4 linked regions of the Homo sapiens genome follow. The protein of the gene in region 2 interacts with the protein of the main gene of each other region in a pairwise test. Each region holds a gene or a part of one and is shown on either strand. Other genes may lie near its edges.

The links.
Region 1: the proteins of NFIL3 (region 2) and CREB1 interact in binary tests that used the Homo sapiens proteins (3 or more experiments, as listed by UniProt).
Region 3: the proteins of NFIL3 (region 2) and BATF come close enough for resonance energy transfer, tested with the Homo sapiens proteins (one large-scale study listed by BioGRID and IntAct).
Region 4: the proteins of NFIL3 (region 2) and RINT1 interact in binary tests that used the Homo sapiens proteins (3 or more experiments, as listed by UniProt).

The regions. Positions count from the first base shown.
Region 1 is NC_000002.12:207,532,855-207,536,842, forward strand, and holds part of CREB1 (cyclic AMP-responsive element-binding protein 1), read left to right. Parts: intron 1-3,988.
Region 2 is NC_000009.12:91,417,194-91,421,181, reverse strand, and holds part of NFIL3 (nuclear factor interleukin-3-regulated protein), read left to right. Parts: intron 1-1,826; exon of another isoform or gene 1,827-3,988.
Region 3 is NC_000014.9:75,528,535-75,532,522, reverse strand, and holds part of BATF (basic leucine zipper transcriptional factor ATF-like), read right to left. Parts: intron 1-3,988. UniProt on the Homo sapiens protein: AP-1 family transcription factor that controls the differentiation of lineage-specific cells in the immune system: specifically mediates the differentiation of T-helper 17 cells (Th17), follicular T-helper cells (TfH), CD8(+) dendritic cells and class-switch recombination (CSR) in B-cells.
Region 4 is NC_000007.14:105,538,296-105,542,283, forward strand, and holds part of RINT1 (RAD50-interacting protein 1), read left to right. Parts: intron 1-3,431; exon of another isoform or gene 3,432-3,560; intron 3,561-3,988. UniProt on the Homo sapiens protein: Involved in regulation of membrane traffic between the Golgi and the endoplasmic reticulum (ER); the function is proposed to depend on its association in the NRZ complex which is believed to play a role in SNARE assembly at the ER.

The sequences.
Region 1 (3,988 bases), on a different chromosome or scaffold from region 2:
AAGCAATTCTCCTGCCCCAGCCCCCCGAGTAGCTGGGATTACAGGTGTGAGCCACCGCGCCCGGCCTGTTTTATTATTTATACATTCATAATTTGTGATTCTTAGCAATTCCAGGTGAAACTTCAAACTTGTATTCATTAATACTTGAACATTCACCTGGAACATGTTACTAAATTGTACTTCTGCACTGTTCCAGCCATGGATAAAAATTACAGCTGGATCTGCTTGAATCTTTTTTTTTTTTTCATGAACACCTACATTTAGAAAGCTAATAAATTACTTGACAGAGTTTGCTTGAAGAATGTTAAAAGAACACTTCTTTGGGAATTTAAAACTTAAGTGTTACCTGTTTTGAATGATTTTTTTTTTGTTTACATAAAGAGCCTGAAGAAACTTAGACACCTGATCCATAAAAATGGCACCTTTTTCTACTTTCTGAAACTCATATTCTTGATTAGGTCTCATTATTAGAAATTTTGGGTTCTTCATAGAGAAGTAGCTTTATTTCTCTCTCATTCTAAGACATTTGGTTTTGTTTGTTTGGATACAGTATGGTTATGGGGTTATAGTAAAACCAAGTATGTCTTCCTCACGTGTTTTTAAATTCTACTTTTTATAACAGAAAATTATTTTTAACCTAATGCTTACAATATATTACCGAAATTTATAATTTCATTTATTCCATAAATAGCTTATCAGATATGAGTTACATAAACTTGTTTACAGCCAGCTTGTGACATAGTTTTGCAAATATCTTGATATATGGTGTAACTTTGATGGCTTCTTTATTGAATAGAGCTCAAATCTAAATTTAAGAATGTAATGAGATGTCAAGATGGAAAAATGCAGGATTTTTTTTTTTCTTACCCATGTGTAAACTCATCTGTACTGCAGTATCACTTGAGACAGCAGTTTATGGTAATTCAAATATTTATTTGGCACTCACTGTGACAGAGAATGTAGTTGAAAGAGCATGAGGTTTGGAATCATAGGCCTAGGTCTGAATCCAAGCATTGCCACTGCTATCCTGTACCCACCCTAAAGGAATTTTGTGTCCTGAAGGAAGTTTCTTAATCTTTCTCAGCCTCAGTTTCCTTATATGTAAAATTAGAATACTACTACTTATTTCATAAGATTGCGAGATAAACATAAAGTACCTTAGGGCTACAACTAATGATAGCTAGTCCCTTAAGCTTTATTTTAACTTCCTACCTGTGGGCCCTTAGGCAAGTTATCTTAACTTCTTAATACCTCACTTTCCTTTCTGATCAGTGTAGAACAACTACCTCAGAATTGTGGGGGTTAACTATAAAGTAATACATACTAAGTCCCAGGCATTGTGCAAGTGTCAAGTGCTCAAGTGTTGACAAGGCTTTTTTCTTTTGTTTTAATTTTTTTTTGAGACGGAGTCTTGCTCTGTTGCCCAGGATGGTGTGCAGTGATGCAGTCTCAGCTCACGGCAACCTCTGCTTCCTGGATTCAAGTGATTCTCCTGCCTCAGCCTCCCTAGTAGCTGGAACTACAGGCATGCACCACCACGCCCGGCTAATTTTTGTGTTTTTAGTAGAGACAGGGTTTCACCATGTTGGTCAGGCTGGTCTTGAATGCCTGGGATTATAGGCGTGAGCCACCACGCCCAGCTGGTCTGTTACTTTTTAAATTATTTATTATTACTATATGTAATACAGTGGGTCAGAAGCTACAACAAATCCAAAGATGAATTACGCTGTCTTATCTCTACCCTCAGGAACTGTTGGGGACACAGTGACTAAGGCAAAATATGTGTCAAAAGAAAGCAGTCAAAGGAAAAAGGGATCACCTTTGGTGAAGTGAGGAGTATATTTTTTATATTTCTAATTTGGTTTTTTGAATAAGTAATTCATTCACATGATCTATAATTCAAAACATAATAACAGCAAAATGCCCTACATTCTCTTGCCCTATTACCTAAGTGTTAGCAATTTTTTATTTGTCCTTTAAGAGGTGTTTTATGCAAACACGAGCAAATATGTATGTACAGTCTCCCCCTTTTTGTACAAATGGTAGCATACTAGGTATACGCTCTCCTATATCATGCTTTACCCCCACCACTTAATATGGCTTAGCAATTTTGTATCAGCACATAAAGAGCTTCTTCATTTTTTAACATACAATTGGAAGCATTTTATTATGTAAGTAGACTGTATTAACCAGTTAGTGAGCTGCTTTTATTCTTAGGTCTTATATTACCTTTTAAACTAAGGGAAACTGCCATCTTGCCTTTATTTCTTTAAATGAAAAACTTTCTATTTGAATGAAAAATAAATAGTTTGTGACAGGAAATTGTTATTTAAAGTCCCTCATTTCCTGTTTAACTCCAGTTTTTAAAAGTTTTAGTAAAATGATCAAAATGTACATGAGGAGGCAAGCAAGCCAGGTTAAGAGTTAACTCACAAGGTGAATTTAACTCTTTTGTTGAGGTTCTTACAGTTCTGAACAGACTACTTCTTTCAATTATTATTTTGGCCCAAAAGGTTTTTATAGCTTTCTTTCTTAATGAGAAAGAACATTTCATATAGTCCGGTGTTTTTTTGGGTTTTTTTTAACAGACAGCTCATGGGATATTATTACCCAGTAAGGCTGATTACTATACTAGATTTCTCCCTGCATTCATTTATTTTTTACATACTTGTTAACTTACCTTGACGATTTTCTAGTATTTCTTAATGTAATTATGTGAGTTTTATATTTTGTACCTAAATTTAAAAATAGTGAGATTCACCTATATGATTGCTGAGATGATAAACTTTACTGCATAGATGATTTTTTTACCCCCGTGGGGAAACCTTTGGTCAACCAGTTGGACCAAGTAATACGTATTTCAGCCAAAGCACAAAATGCGTTTCACTACCTTTTTTTTTTCCTCTAGCTTTTCGAAACAGCATTGAGCTACAATACTTTTTTATTTATTTATTTATTTATTTATTTTTATTTATTTATTTTTTTGAGGCAAGGTTTGGCTCTATCACCCAGGCTGGAGTGCAGTGGCACACACTTGGCTCACTGCAACCTCTGTTTCCTGGCTCAAGCCATCCTCCCATTTCAGCTTCCTGAGTGAGTGGGACAACAGGCGCGCACCACCAGGCCCGGCTAATTTTTTGTAGAGACAGAGTTTCGCCATGTTGCCCAGGCTGGTCTCAAACTCATGAGCTCAAGCCATCCACCTGCCTCAGCCTCCCAAAGAGTTGGGATTACAAGCGTGAGCCACCATGCCCGAATGCTGTAGTACATTTTAAATATACATGCTGTTTGTATTTATCTTTAAAATGTACACACTATGACTTTTTTGAGTTGATTAAACTCAGAAAGTGATTAATAATATAGCAGCAAGGGCACAAATCTCTTTCCAGAAAACATCATTAAGTAAAGCTGTCATGGGCCAGTCGCGGTGGCTGACGCCTGTGTGATCCCAGCACTTTGGGAGGCTGAGGTAGGTGGATCACCTGAGGTCAGGAGTTCGAGACCAGCCTGGCCAACATGGTGAAACCCCGTCTCTACTAAAAATACAAAAATTAGCTGGGCATGGGGGCAGGCGCCTGCAATCCCAGCTACTCAGGAGGCTGAGGCAGGATAATCACTTGGACCTGGAAGGCAGAGGTTGCAGTGAGCTGAGATTGCACCATTGCACGCCAGGCTGGGCGACAAGAGCGAAACTCTGTCTTAAGAAAAAAACAAAAGCTGTCATGGTATATTTCGTTTTTTGTATTCCCAAGTTGGTGTTTATGCGTTGATCATATATACAAAGTTTTTAATGTAAGAATATTGTTTTGAGGTTTTACTAATATTTGATTTAAAATATTACTATGTGCTATTTGGCCAGGCGTGGTGGCTCACGTCTGTAATCCCGGCACTTTGGGAGGTCGAGGCGGGCGGATCACTTGAGGCCAGGAGTTTGAGACCAGCCTGGCCAAGATGGTGAAACCCCATCTCTACTAAAAATAGAAGAATT
Region 2 (3,988 bases):
GCGGCCCTCCTTCCAACAGGGCAAATCCAGGGGCCTGACTCCGCGCCTGTTCTGCGGTGAGGTTCAGAAACCTGCAGACACCTTTGTTCCAAGAGTCTTCATTGTATTTCGGAACCAAGCGCGTCTCCATTCTTGAAGTGAAAAAGACCTTAAGAAAAACCTCCAAACGTCCACCGGCCACAGAAATTGGGGGTGGAGGCGCTCCAGTATTGATAGTGATTAAAAGGAAGGCCTCAGCTTGACTTTGGCCAGTTGAGTTGAGCCGATTTTTTTTAACCTTTAATTTATGTGGTCAAAGGCTAGAGGAGAGAGAACACTGATCTCCAGAGTTCAAAATAAAATCTAAACGCCCACATAGACGCTGCTGTCCTACTGTAAAACTACAGTACTTTCATCCTCGCATAAAGACTTCCAAGATTGTACCCATGCAGTAATTCATGGAGACATCACAGATGTTCTCCTGAAGCATATCAACGCAATCTGCTCTTTGTTGAAAACTGACCGAAAACTTGCTTTCTTTGGCATCATACCCTACACCGCTATCCCTAATCAGTTTCCCTCCTGTTACAGGCAGTAGTTAGAGAACAGGTTTCGGTGAGGTACAGATCCTAAGAGCGCAGGCCCTGGGCTCACAAGAACCCTGGGTCCCAGGCCCCAGCTTGTTATCTTCCAACACTGTCCTGATTTCCATCACTCTCCAGGGTAAACTGAGGGAATAAAACCTGTTGACTTAGTTGGTTGTGAGGAGTTCAATAAATGTTTCCTGTGTTATTGATCAGGAACCAGAATCTGTGTGTGTGTGTGTGTGTGTGTGTGTGTGTGTGTGTGTATTTACCTTCATTTTTCTCTTTGTAAATCTCTTCGCAGTAACAGTAAGGATTCGTGTTGGAATTAAGTCTGTAAGATCTTTCTTGAGATACTTTTTTTGTTCTAATAATATATATATTTTTTAATTTGCCATCGTGTTCAATGTTAATTTCAGTTTGAGGGGAATTCCTGACAGGATTGCAGAACCTCAAACTTCCCAAGTCATTGGGTTAATGTTTTGGGGAGCTGCTTGAAGGAATAGAGAGATGAGTCGATTATAGTAGCAGGAATGACGTGACAATTGCCATATTAATAGCTCAGCTTTTTCCAATTCCCTTACACATTCTGTGACTCATTTTCTGTAGCTTGGATGATTTCTCTATCTAAAACTTTGTGGTCTGAGATCAGCAGTGGATGGTGAGACCCCACAGATAAGCTCTCTTGTAGGGGGTATATGTAGCCTGAAAACTAAGGCCAGTCCTGTGAAACTGTTGATATTTGACCCTTTTGACCAAATTTTCATTTGGTTTACCCTTACACTTGCGACATAGGTCAGGGCTTCAGTAAGAGTCACGAGCAGCAAAAACAGCCTGGAACTGATAGGCATCGTTGCCTTTTGATACTGATCATTCTTCAGAAAAGAGATAAAGAGTTAGTATTTACTAAACACATACTCTGCATGTGCCAGGCACAGTGTTGAGGGGCTCTGTTATCATCCACATTTCATAGATGAGGAAATGGAAACTCAGAGAAATGAATTTGCAGCCCAGGTCGCAGAGCCTGAAAACCAGATGGGGAAATTTGCACCTCAACAAAGTGTATTCTCACACTCACTGTAGTTTTTGAAACAATTTCCTTTTCTGGGTTAAAGACTTATTTTTGTGCAGTGCAGTTATAACATCACTGTGATGCAACAGCCTGAAAATTAAAACCCTTTGTGAGAGGCCTTTCGGACGTTGAGCAATGTGCCTGACTCACCAGCTGAGTGGATTTTTCTAGTTGACCTTGCCTTGGTCATTAGAGTCAATTTCGAGATGTAAATGCGATTGCAGCATGGAATGGAAAAGGTGCAGTCATATTGCCTGGGCTTTATTTTTACCCAGGTTAAACTCATATACTTCATGATTTCCATTGTAATCCAGATGCCATTGATGCTGTTAAAGTTGTTTATTTTTAATTTGTATTGAGGAATGAGAGCACACTTGGGATTCAATTCAAAATATAACAGAAACAATGTAATTGAAATTGCCTTTAATATTCATTTCTTGTTTTTGTAAGGTATGCCTGTATTTCACGGGGTTTAATACATTGTTTGATATCCTGTTATTTTTCTAAATTATATTTGAGTTGATTTCTATCCAGGTTGGACTTGTATGAGAATGTTGAAAGACGTTGACCTTTGATCACAGACATTACAATATGAATTTTTCAGTTTCAAAATGAATTTTTATTACTACTACCCCAGTTATCTTTCACATTTCTTTGTAAGTAACTTTACTGTAGTTAAAAAAAAAAAAAACACCCAAAACTGTTTCTCATATGGCTTTAATAATAGAGCATAAACTTGTTTTTATGATAAGAAAGTTTACTAGAGATTTGCTAGATGCCATTTGTTATTAATCTGTGCTTTGAGGACTCAGTTTCATAGGACTCAGAATGATGTTTATAAGCCTTTTAGTTATCAGAACATGATGTCTTTTATTAATTAGCTTTTTAGGGGTCTTAAACTGTAATTAACTGGCCTTCAAATAAACACTACAAATAAGCATTTGAAAATCCACTCTATTCATAAGGTAGAAAATGACATTTATAATCATCCACTGACTGGAAAAGTGGAAAAAGAAATTAAAAAGCCAAGTGAAGCAAGTTGGGATGATTCTACATTATCATTAGAAACTTTCAAGAATTTTCTCAGCCTGACTGTCCCCTTAGCCCACCATTTTTGCCATCATTACACCATGTTGCATGTATTACTTATTCATTGGGGAATTTTCTACAACTGGGTTACTTTGTGATTGTTGGTGTCCTTTTAAGATTTCAGATTAGTTGCTACACTGATCAGTTATCTTTTCAGAAGTTTCAAGATATTAATAGTCCCCACATTTAAGTTTCTATAGATTTTTAAAAAATTATTACTGTTCTGTTTTTCCCCCATGTTACTACCCATCTTTAGTGAGAGCTGTTCTTATTTCTCAAGCTGTGCAGTTAATTGGTCGTGCTAGCGTGTATGTGCTTACTCTGTGCAGGCTTCAGAATAATTTAATTGTGTATTAAGTTTCAAACACTGACGACCTCTTAAAGAAGAATGTTAAGTTATACTATTTCATATTTCAATTACTTAAATTACATCAGTGATGTAATAAAATGCAATGTTGTCATCGTATTTATTAAATTTAAATTTAATTTTCAGCTAGTCCTTTGTCGAACTTGAAATATTTTCATTTATCATAAACTGGATCAGGCTTTGACACATTTATTTACAGAGGCACCCAAATAGAAAAAGTAGGTCAATTTGTTGCTATGATAGAATAGATTCTGGCAGTGTGCGAGAGTGTGTGTGTATGTGTGTGTGTGCGTCTTGCCTGTCTTGATCAAGTGCACATTTCTCTCTAACTTTGGGGTAAGCTGCTTCTTGGGGACAGAATGGCCCTTAGAGAGGTTTAACATAGTTTTCTCAGCTTAAAAATCCTTCTCTTTTTCAACGGGATTAGAAAATTCTCTTGCAACTTCGGTGTTTTCTGACTGAGTTTTTTCACTCCCCATTTCCTCTGGGTTGTACATGTATAGTGAATTCTTTTCTTATTTCATCTCTGCTTTTAAATACTAGATTGTTTTCTCATCCATGAAAAGAAGTAAAGCATTTCATTGACGCAGATACTGTGAATTTTACCCACAGGAAGAAAATGTAGGGTTAACATATTGCTAGTATTCATACTTTAAAAGTATAAAGAGATGTGAATTGATTAATTGATTTGATTTTTTCATGAAAATGACATTTATCTAAAAAATAAGCATCTGCTGTCTTACTGGAGAGGTGGCTTACAGTTTAACATAACTTAGGTTTACCTTGAAGACATTTTTTTTTCCTTTACTGTTATCTGTATTATATAACAGGGAGAAAACAATACATTCAGAGAGTAGAGGGAAAATAAGATAATTCTATAATGTTTCCAAATCATTG
Region 3 (3,988 bases), on a different chromosome or scaffold from region 2:
CTTCTCAAAAAAGATTTCAATTGACATATTGTATCATTTGATATACCAATTGTATCTATCTATATATAGTACCTATCTATATATGTTGATATCATGATATATATGACATATATGATATCAATTGTACAATGGATATACTGTATTGAAAGTAAACATGTCTTTACTTTCTTGATCACGCCTGATGATGGCTGGGGGACAGTGTAGATTTTGGAGGATATTGCTTAAAAGACAAAAAAATTAATTCATGTAGAGATTCAAGGAAAATATAGGTTAGGGAAGATGAATACATCTTCATCAGAGTTTGAAGAAAGAGGCAGTAAAACTTAATGGTTAGGAAAATGGGTTCTGACGTCAGACAGACCTAGTCACAAGCTGTGTCATCTCCATCAAGTTACTTAATGCAAGGAATTATAAAATACAGCTTTTATGCAGATTAAATGAGATGCTGCAGGGAGAGCACTTGAGGCACAGTGGTTAATACATAGTCGTTTGTTCAATTAACATGGTTTTTTCTTAAAAGAAATTCATAGCAATGGAGACAGAAGGGTCGCATCTCTTTCCATAGATGGTTCACTGATTCTACATTGAACTTTTTAAGGGTGGAACTAGCCTGAACATTCCTGACCTGTGACTTATCTGTGCCAACAAACATTATGGCATGGTCTCCCAGAGAGAGCAAAAGAATTCCAGGAGTGAAATAGGACCGTAAGCATCCTTCTCTGCCTCCTCAGAAGGCCAAGAACAATAGTGCTACCCAAACATCTTTTCCTCCATTACTCAATTTTTCTCCAATTGTAAATACCGTATTTCTCACAGTGTTAGCTCAAAGCTTCATTTAATGCATAATTTATACTCATGACTTTTCTGTCATATATGACAAAGCACATCCCTGGAGCCTGTAAACCTCTCTTTTTTCTTATACTGGTGTGAGACTCCTTCAGGAGGCAGCCCCAGGCAAGCACCTGGCCCACTTCCATCTAAGACAGTACCTAAATCTCAAGCTTTCAAACTTGGCTGTTACTCTCACTTGCTTTCAGCTCCATCCACCAGGCCAGATATGACTTGTCAACAGCTCGGCTCAGGGCTAACACTGCTATTTGCCACTGCTCCCGGCAACTCCACTGATTTTAGCCTTTTCATGAATAAAGCTTCTTAATTGACCTCAGCTCTCTTTTCCACTGATCCTGGTCTTTGACTTGAAATCCTTCCAGCTGTACGGCACCAGATAGCCATGACCAACCAACCAAGATGGCTACACAAAGGAAACGGATTTGCCATCTTTTATCATATAGTACTGTGGACCTTAGAGTCACTCAAATCCCAACTTACAGTTGGTTCTCCCAAGGGCTGAGATATTTATGTATGATGTTCAAAAGATAACGTCAAGATTGAATACTCTTCCATGTCGTGATGGAAGATTATTCAATGTTTGATGTCAAAATTAGAAAAGAAATCCTCCTAATGCATGTGTGGTAATGATCAATGCTGAGAATTTTGATATCTATATTATAAAGATAAAAGCATGTGATAAAAAATCCCAAACTGTATAAAAGGTAAAGAATGCCAAGTATCTCCCTCTTGCTTTAGATCTTTAGTCCTACTTTTCAGAAATAAATATCATTAACAATTTTTTATAATCTATTTGAAAAAGTTTGCATTTATACTTATGCATATATGTAACTTTTTCTTTTTATTAAAAACACAGAAGGGGCTGGGTGCTGTTGCTCACACCTGTAATCCCAGCACTTTGGGAGGCCAAGGTGGGCAGGGCAGATCACTTGAGCTCAGGAGTTCGAGACCAGCCTGGGCAACATAGTGAGACCCTGTCTCTAAAAATAAAAAATAAATAAATAAATAAAACATTAAATTAAAAAACTAATGGTAGCAAACTATGGACTATATTTATGCCTTTTTAACTTAAAGTACAGAAGTGATAATCCTTCCAGATTAGCACATTCAGATGTAACTCATTATTTTAACATATCTGCAATATTCCACAGAATGGACAATAATTTATTGAATCCCTTATTGGTGGATTTTTTTAGCTTATGTTCAGTCTTTCCTATAAGAAACAATGCAGCAATGATTATCTTTACATGTACAGAATTGTATGATGTGTGGATTTGTTTGTGAACACACTCCTGGATGTCAAATTGCTGAGTCGCAGGGTATGTGCACCTATAATTTGAATGGACGTGGGCAAATTGCCTTCTACCAGGGTTATGCAGACTCTACTACTAGCTGTGTGTGATGGTGCCTGCTTCTCCATTACCTTGGCAACATCGTGTATCAACAACATGTTTCATCTTTGCCAGCCTCACTGCTGCTTTAATTGGCATTTTCCTAACTAAATAAGGTCTACCATCTTTTCACACATTTATTTGCCACTTATTTCTCTTTTCTGTAAATTGCCTATTCATAGTCATTGTTCATTTTTCTTTACTTTTTTTTTTTTTTTTTTGACGGAGTCTCGCTCTGTCTCCCAGGCTGGAGTGCAGTGGCGCTATCTTGGTTCACTGCAAGCTCCGCCTCCCGGGTTCACGCCATTCTCCTGCCTCAGCCTCTCAAGTAGCTGGGACTACAGGCACCCGCCACCACGCCTGGCTAATTTTTTGTATTTTTAGTAGAGACGGGGTTTCACTGTGTTAGCCAGGATGGTCTCGATCTGCTGACCTCGTGATCCGCCCGCCTCGGCCTCCCAAATTGCTGGGATTAAGGCGTGAGCCGCCGCGCCCGGCCCATTGTTCATTTTTCTTTTGGGTTGTTAATCATCTCCTATTCATAAGAGCTCTCTCATATAGTAAGTAAACATACCTTTTTTGGTCATATGTATTACAGATATTTTTCCTCAGCTTGTCATTTGCCTTTGATTTTGCATACAGTATTTTGATCTATAAAGAAACTTTTACTTTTTATGAATAAAAGTAATGTATATCAATCTTTTCCTTTATGGCTTCAGGGTTTTATGTTTTATTTAGAAAATAATTCCTCATTCCAAGATAAATTTTTAATGGTTATTTGTCTTTTCAAGTTTCTTTAGCTTCCTTTTTTTAAAAAATTTAACATTTACCATGTTGGCCAGGCTGGTCTCGAACTCCTGACTTCAAGTGATCTGCCCACCTTGGCCTCCCAAAGTGCTAGGATTACAAGCGTGAGCCACCGTGCCCAGCCCATTTTGTATTTATACTTGTGTCCTAGGAGTTGAAATATGTATTTGGGTCTTAAAATCTGAATTTGTTTTTGGGTCTGTTTCCATATTCTATCCTGTTCAATGTTCTGTCTTTTCCACATTGTTTTGATTTCTGTATTTGTGTTTCACTTTAATATGTTGGTCAGTTAATCTTTTTTCATTATACTTCTTCTTTAGAATTTTCCTGGCAATTGTCATATGATTTTTTTTCACTGGAAACTTAGAATAGCTAATCTAGTTCTTGCCCAAATCCCAGAAAACCCTATTGGGTTTTTTATTGGGATCTCATTAAATTTATCAATTAACTTAAGGAAAATTGCTAACTTTACATAAGGTATATCTTTCCAATTATTTGAATCTTTTAAAAATCATTTAGGATACACTCTTCATAATTTTTGTTAAATTATTCCTTCCTTCCATTTGCTGTTGTCATTGGTATTATAAACAGGATCTTTCCTTCCATTAATTTCCTAATTGGTTATGTTTTGCATATAGGAACGTTATTACATTTTGTTTTAATTTTAGAAGCTGACTGCATTCTCTTATTATTTCAAATAATTTTTCAGCTGATTATCTTAGGTCCACTTATTAGCTATTGATATCTTTTAGAAACTAACTGGTCAAGTTATGCCTTTCTCTTTTTTAATCAACATCTGTACTATATACAATGAACCCTACAGTTGTCTGCAGGAGAAAAGGAACTAAGTGTGCAGGGTGCTTGTGTGAGATGCTCAACAAAAGGAGAATTAAAACAGAATTAGATTGTTTGTTGATGTCACAATTACGAAAGGAATCACC
Region 4 (3,988 bases), on a different chromosome or scaffold from region 2:
AAAACATTTTTATCATATAGCTACTAAATTAGGTTAAGTAAATTCTGTGTGGGTTATTTCCAGGTTTTTGGTCATCGTATATTCTCCTGTCCCCATTACCTTAGGCCTCCACACCTTCCTGTCTTCCCACCACAACTACTGCTAGTCTTCAAGTTTAGCCTGGCTTTGTCTGCCTTTTCACTCCTGCAGGCAGGTTGTTGTGGGCCCAGTTGGAGGAAGTCATGCAGCTGAGTAGATTGATGCCAATCTATGTGTGTGGTCTGCCACCCTGGCTGAGTCTTCAGCCCCACCAGCAGTCCTTCCATGGGAACGTCAGCTCCTCTGCTACTCCCCTCAACTGTTCTTTCAGATTCTGTTTGAGACATCTACCCAACCTGTCCATTCTGCCCTTTCCTTTTCCCTAGCAGAAAAAAATAGAAGCCTAGCATGAATTTAGTAGCATTGAATTCAGTCTGTTGAATAGTCTATCCCACAATCGACAAATTTATGTGCAGTCATTTTTAACCTCTTCATTCAGCAAAGGATCAGTCGAAGGCAGACCTTATACCCCAGGTTCTCTCTGCCACCTCAGTAAACTTGTGTCACTCTTATAATTTTACCCTGTGTTCGTCAACCAGTCCTATCCCTTCAGCATGTGCACATAGACAGGTCTTTTCCATAAAACCTTAACAAAGAAACAAAAAAACCCATGATCTTTTAGCAGGTATTAGTTCTTTCCTTTGATTGTCAGGCTTCAGAAAGTAACCTTTGTTATCTATCTCTACTTTTTGTCATTCATCTTTTACCCACTGTAATCAGGTTTGTTTCCCTAATGACCACAGAAACTTTTACTGAAGTTCCTTATTGAACCTTAAATTCAGCATGTCCAAAACTATACTGATCCATTTTTTAGAGGCTTGTCTGTCTTGGTTAGATAATGGCACCACTATTTGCCTGTCACCCAGACCTGAAGCCTAGGAGTCCTAGATTCCTTCTTATCATCCTCTCATCCTCTATCCCATCACCAAGTCATCTGAGTTCAGCCTCAACATCTCTGGTATCCATCCCATCTTTCCCACTCTTTTTTTTTTTTTTTTTTTTTTGAGTTGGAGTTTCACTCTTGTTGCCCAGGCTGGAGTGCAATGGCACAATCTTGGCTCACTGCAACCTCCACCTCCTGGGTTCGAGTGATTCTCCCGCCTCAGGCTCCCAAGTAGCTGGGATTATAGGCATGTGCCACCACGCTCGGCTAATTTTGTATTTTTGGTAGAGATGGGGTTTCTCCATGTTGGTCAGGTTGGTCTCAAACTCCCAACCTCAGGTGATCTGCCCGAAAGTGGATCTTGGCCTTCCAAAGTGCTGGGATTACAGGCGTGAGTCACTGCTCCCGGCCCATCTTTCCCACTCTTGCTGATACCATGTTAGTTTAGGCAGATTGGGAGCTTTGTAGAAATGCAGAATCTCAGTCTTACTTCAGACTTACTGTATCAGAATCTGTATTACAACAAGATCTTTAGGTGATTAATGTGCCCATTCATTAAATATAGCCTGTCTATTTTATTGCATTAATCCCACTGTTGAAATTATTTGCTTACAACACTCTTATATACCAAAGTGACCTGAAGGACGGATGCTGTGTCTTGTTTATCTGCATATTTCTAGCGCAGTGCCTGGTACAGAATAAGTATCTAATCACTGTTGATTGAAATTATTCTATAATGTTCTTTGTATTTTGCTGATGACTAATATTTGTATATGTTTTCCCACATACTATAAGAAAAATTCACTTAATAAATGCCATTTTCTTTTTTTTTTTTTTTTTGAGATGGAGTCTTCCTCTGTCGCCCAGGCTGGAGTGTGGTGGTGTGATCTCAGCTCACTGCTACCTCTGCCTTCCGGGTTTCAAGTGATTCTCCTGCCTCAGCCTCCTGAATAGCTGGGATTACAGGCATGCGCCACCATCCTCAGCTCATTTTTGTATTTGTATTTATTTTATTTTATTTTTTGAGACAGAGTCTCACTCTGTCGCCCAGGCTGGAGTGCAGTGGAGCGATCTCAGCTCACTGTAACCTCCGCCTCCTGGTTTCACCAATTCTCCTGCCTCAGCCTCTTGAGTAGCTGGGATTACAGGCTCATACTACCACACCCGGCTAGTTTTTGTATTTTTATTAGAGACGGGGTTTCACCATGTTGGCAAGTGTGGTCTCAAACTCCTTACCTCAAGTGATCCACCAGCTTCTGCCTCCCAAAGTGCTAGGATTACAGGCATGAGACACTGTGCCCGGCTGAATTTTTGTATTTTTAGTAGAGACAGGGTTTCACCATGTTGGCTAGGCTGGTCTCGAACTCCTGACCTCCAGTGACCTGCCCTCCTTGGCCTCCCAAAGTGCTGGGATTACAGGTGTGAGCCACTGCACCTGGCCACTAAATGCCCTTTCTAAAGGCATTGCCTGGATATCATCTCATCAAGTCAGTGCTTCTTAGCCTGGCCTTAATTCAGAATCACCTGGGGTATGTTGGCAAAATATAGATGCTCAGCCTGTTAGAATGAGATCTTTGTTTCCTTTTTTTTTTTTTTTTTGATATGGAGTCTCGCTCTGTCACCCAGGCTAGATGGCAGTGGCGCAGTCTCGGCCCACTGCAACCTCTGCCTCCCGGGTTTAAGAAATTCTCTGCCTCAGCCTCCCAAAGTGCTGGGATTACAGGTATGTGCCACCATGCTCAGCTAATTTTTTTGTATTTTTTAGTAGAGACAAGATTTTGCCATCTTGGCCAGGCTGGTCTTGAACTCCTGACCTTGTGATCCACCCACCTTGGCCTCCCAAAGTGCTGGGATTACAGGTGTGAGTCACCGCACCCAGCTTGCATTTTTTTTTTTCTTCTTTGAGGAGTCTTGCTCTGTCACCCAGGCTGGATGGAGTGCGGTGGTGCAGTCTCAGCTCACTGCAACCTCCTCCCGGTTCAAGTGATTCTTGCCTTGGCCTCTCTAGAGCTGGGATTACAAGGTGTGTGCCACCAAACCTGGCTAGTTTTTGTATTTTTAGTAGAGATGGGGTTTCATCATGTTGGCCAGGCTGGTCTTGAACTCCTGACCTCAAATGATCCGCCTGTCTTGGCCTCCCAAACTGCTGGGATTACAGGTGTGAGCCACCGTGCCCGGCCCTTCCTTTGCTTTGAAGGAAAATATTTAGCAGGTAGAGCATGTATTAATAAGTTTTCTCGGCCTGGCACGGTGGCTTATGCCTGTAATCCCAGCACTCTGGGAGGCTGGGGTGGGCGGATCATGAGGTCAGGAGTTCGAGATCAGCCTGACCAACGTGGTGAAACCCCGTCTCTACTAAAAATACAAAAATTAGCCGAGCGTGATGGCACGTGTCTATAATTCCTGCTATTTAGGAGGCTGAGGCAGGAGAATCACTTGACCCCGGGAGGTGGAGGTTGCAGTGAGCTGAGATCACGCCACTGCACTCCAGCCTGGGTGACAGAACGAAACTCTGTCTCAAAAAAATAAAATAAGTTTTCTCTAGCTGGATCCTCTGCTGAGCCTATGGAGGCAGACCTCTAGATGCTTACTGGAGCCAGTGAGTTAAGTCCCTTTCTCTACATGTATGTGTATATGTATGTATGCATATATTTTTTATTTTATTTTTATTTTTTTGTTTCACTTATTGTTTTCAACACAAAGGCATACTTCTTCCTGCTATTTGTGTGTATATAAAACAGCATGTTATGTTTGGATTGATTAGTACAGGATGAAGAAATCAAACCTTTTTTTGAAGGTTTTGATGGATGATTTTCAGTTCTGTTACAAAAAATGTGTATTTTGAAGGGAACGAACTAATAAAAAAGGTTACATACAGCCTGGGCAACATAGTGAGACCTTATTTCTATTTAAAGAAAAAAAAAAAAGAAAAGCCAGGTGTAGTGGTGCATATGTGTAGTCCCAACTACTGGGGAGGTTGAGGTGGGAGGATTGGTTGAGCCCAGGAAGTCCAGGCTGCAGTGAGCT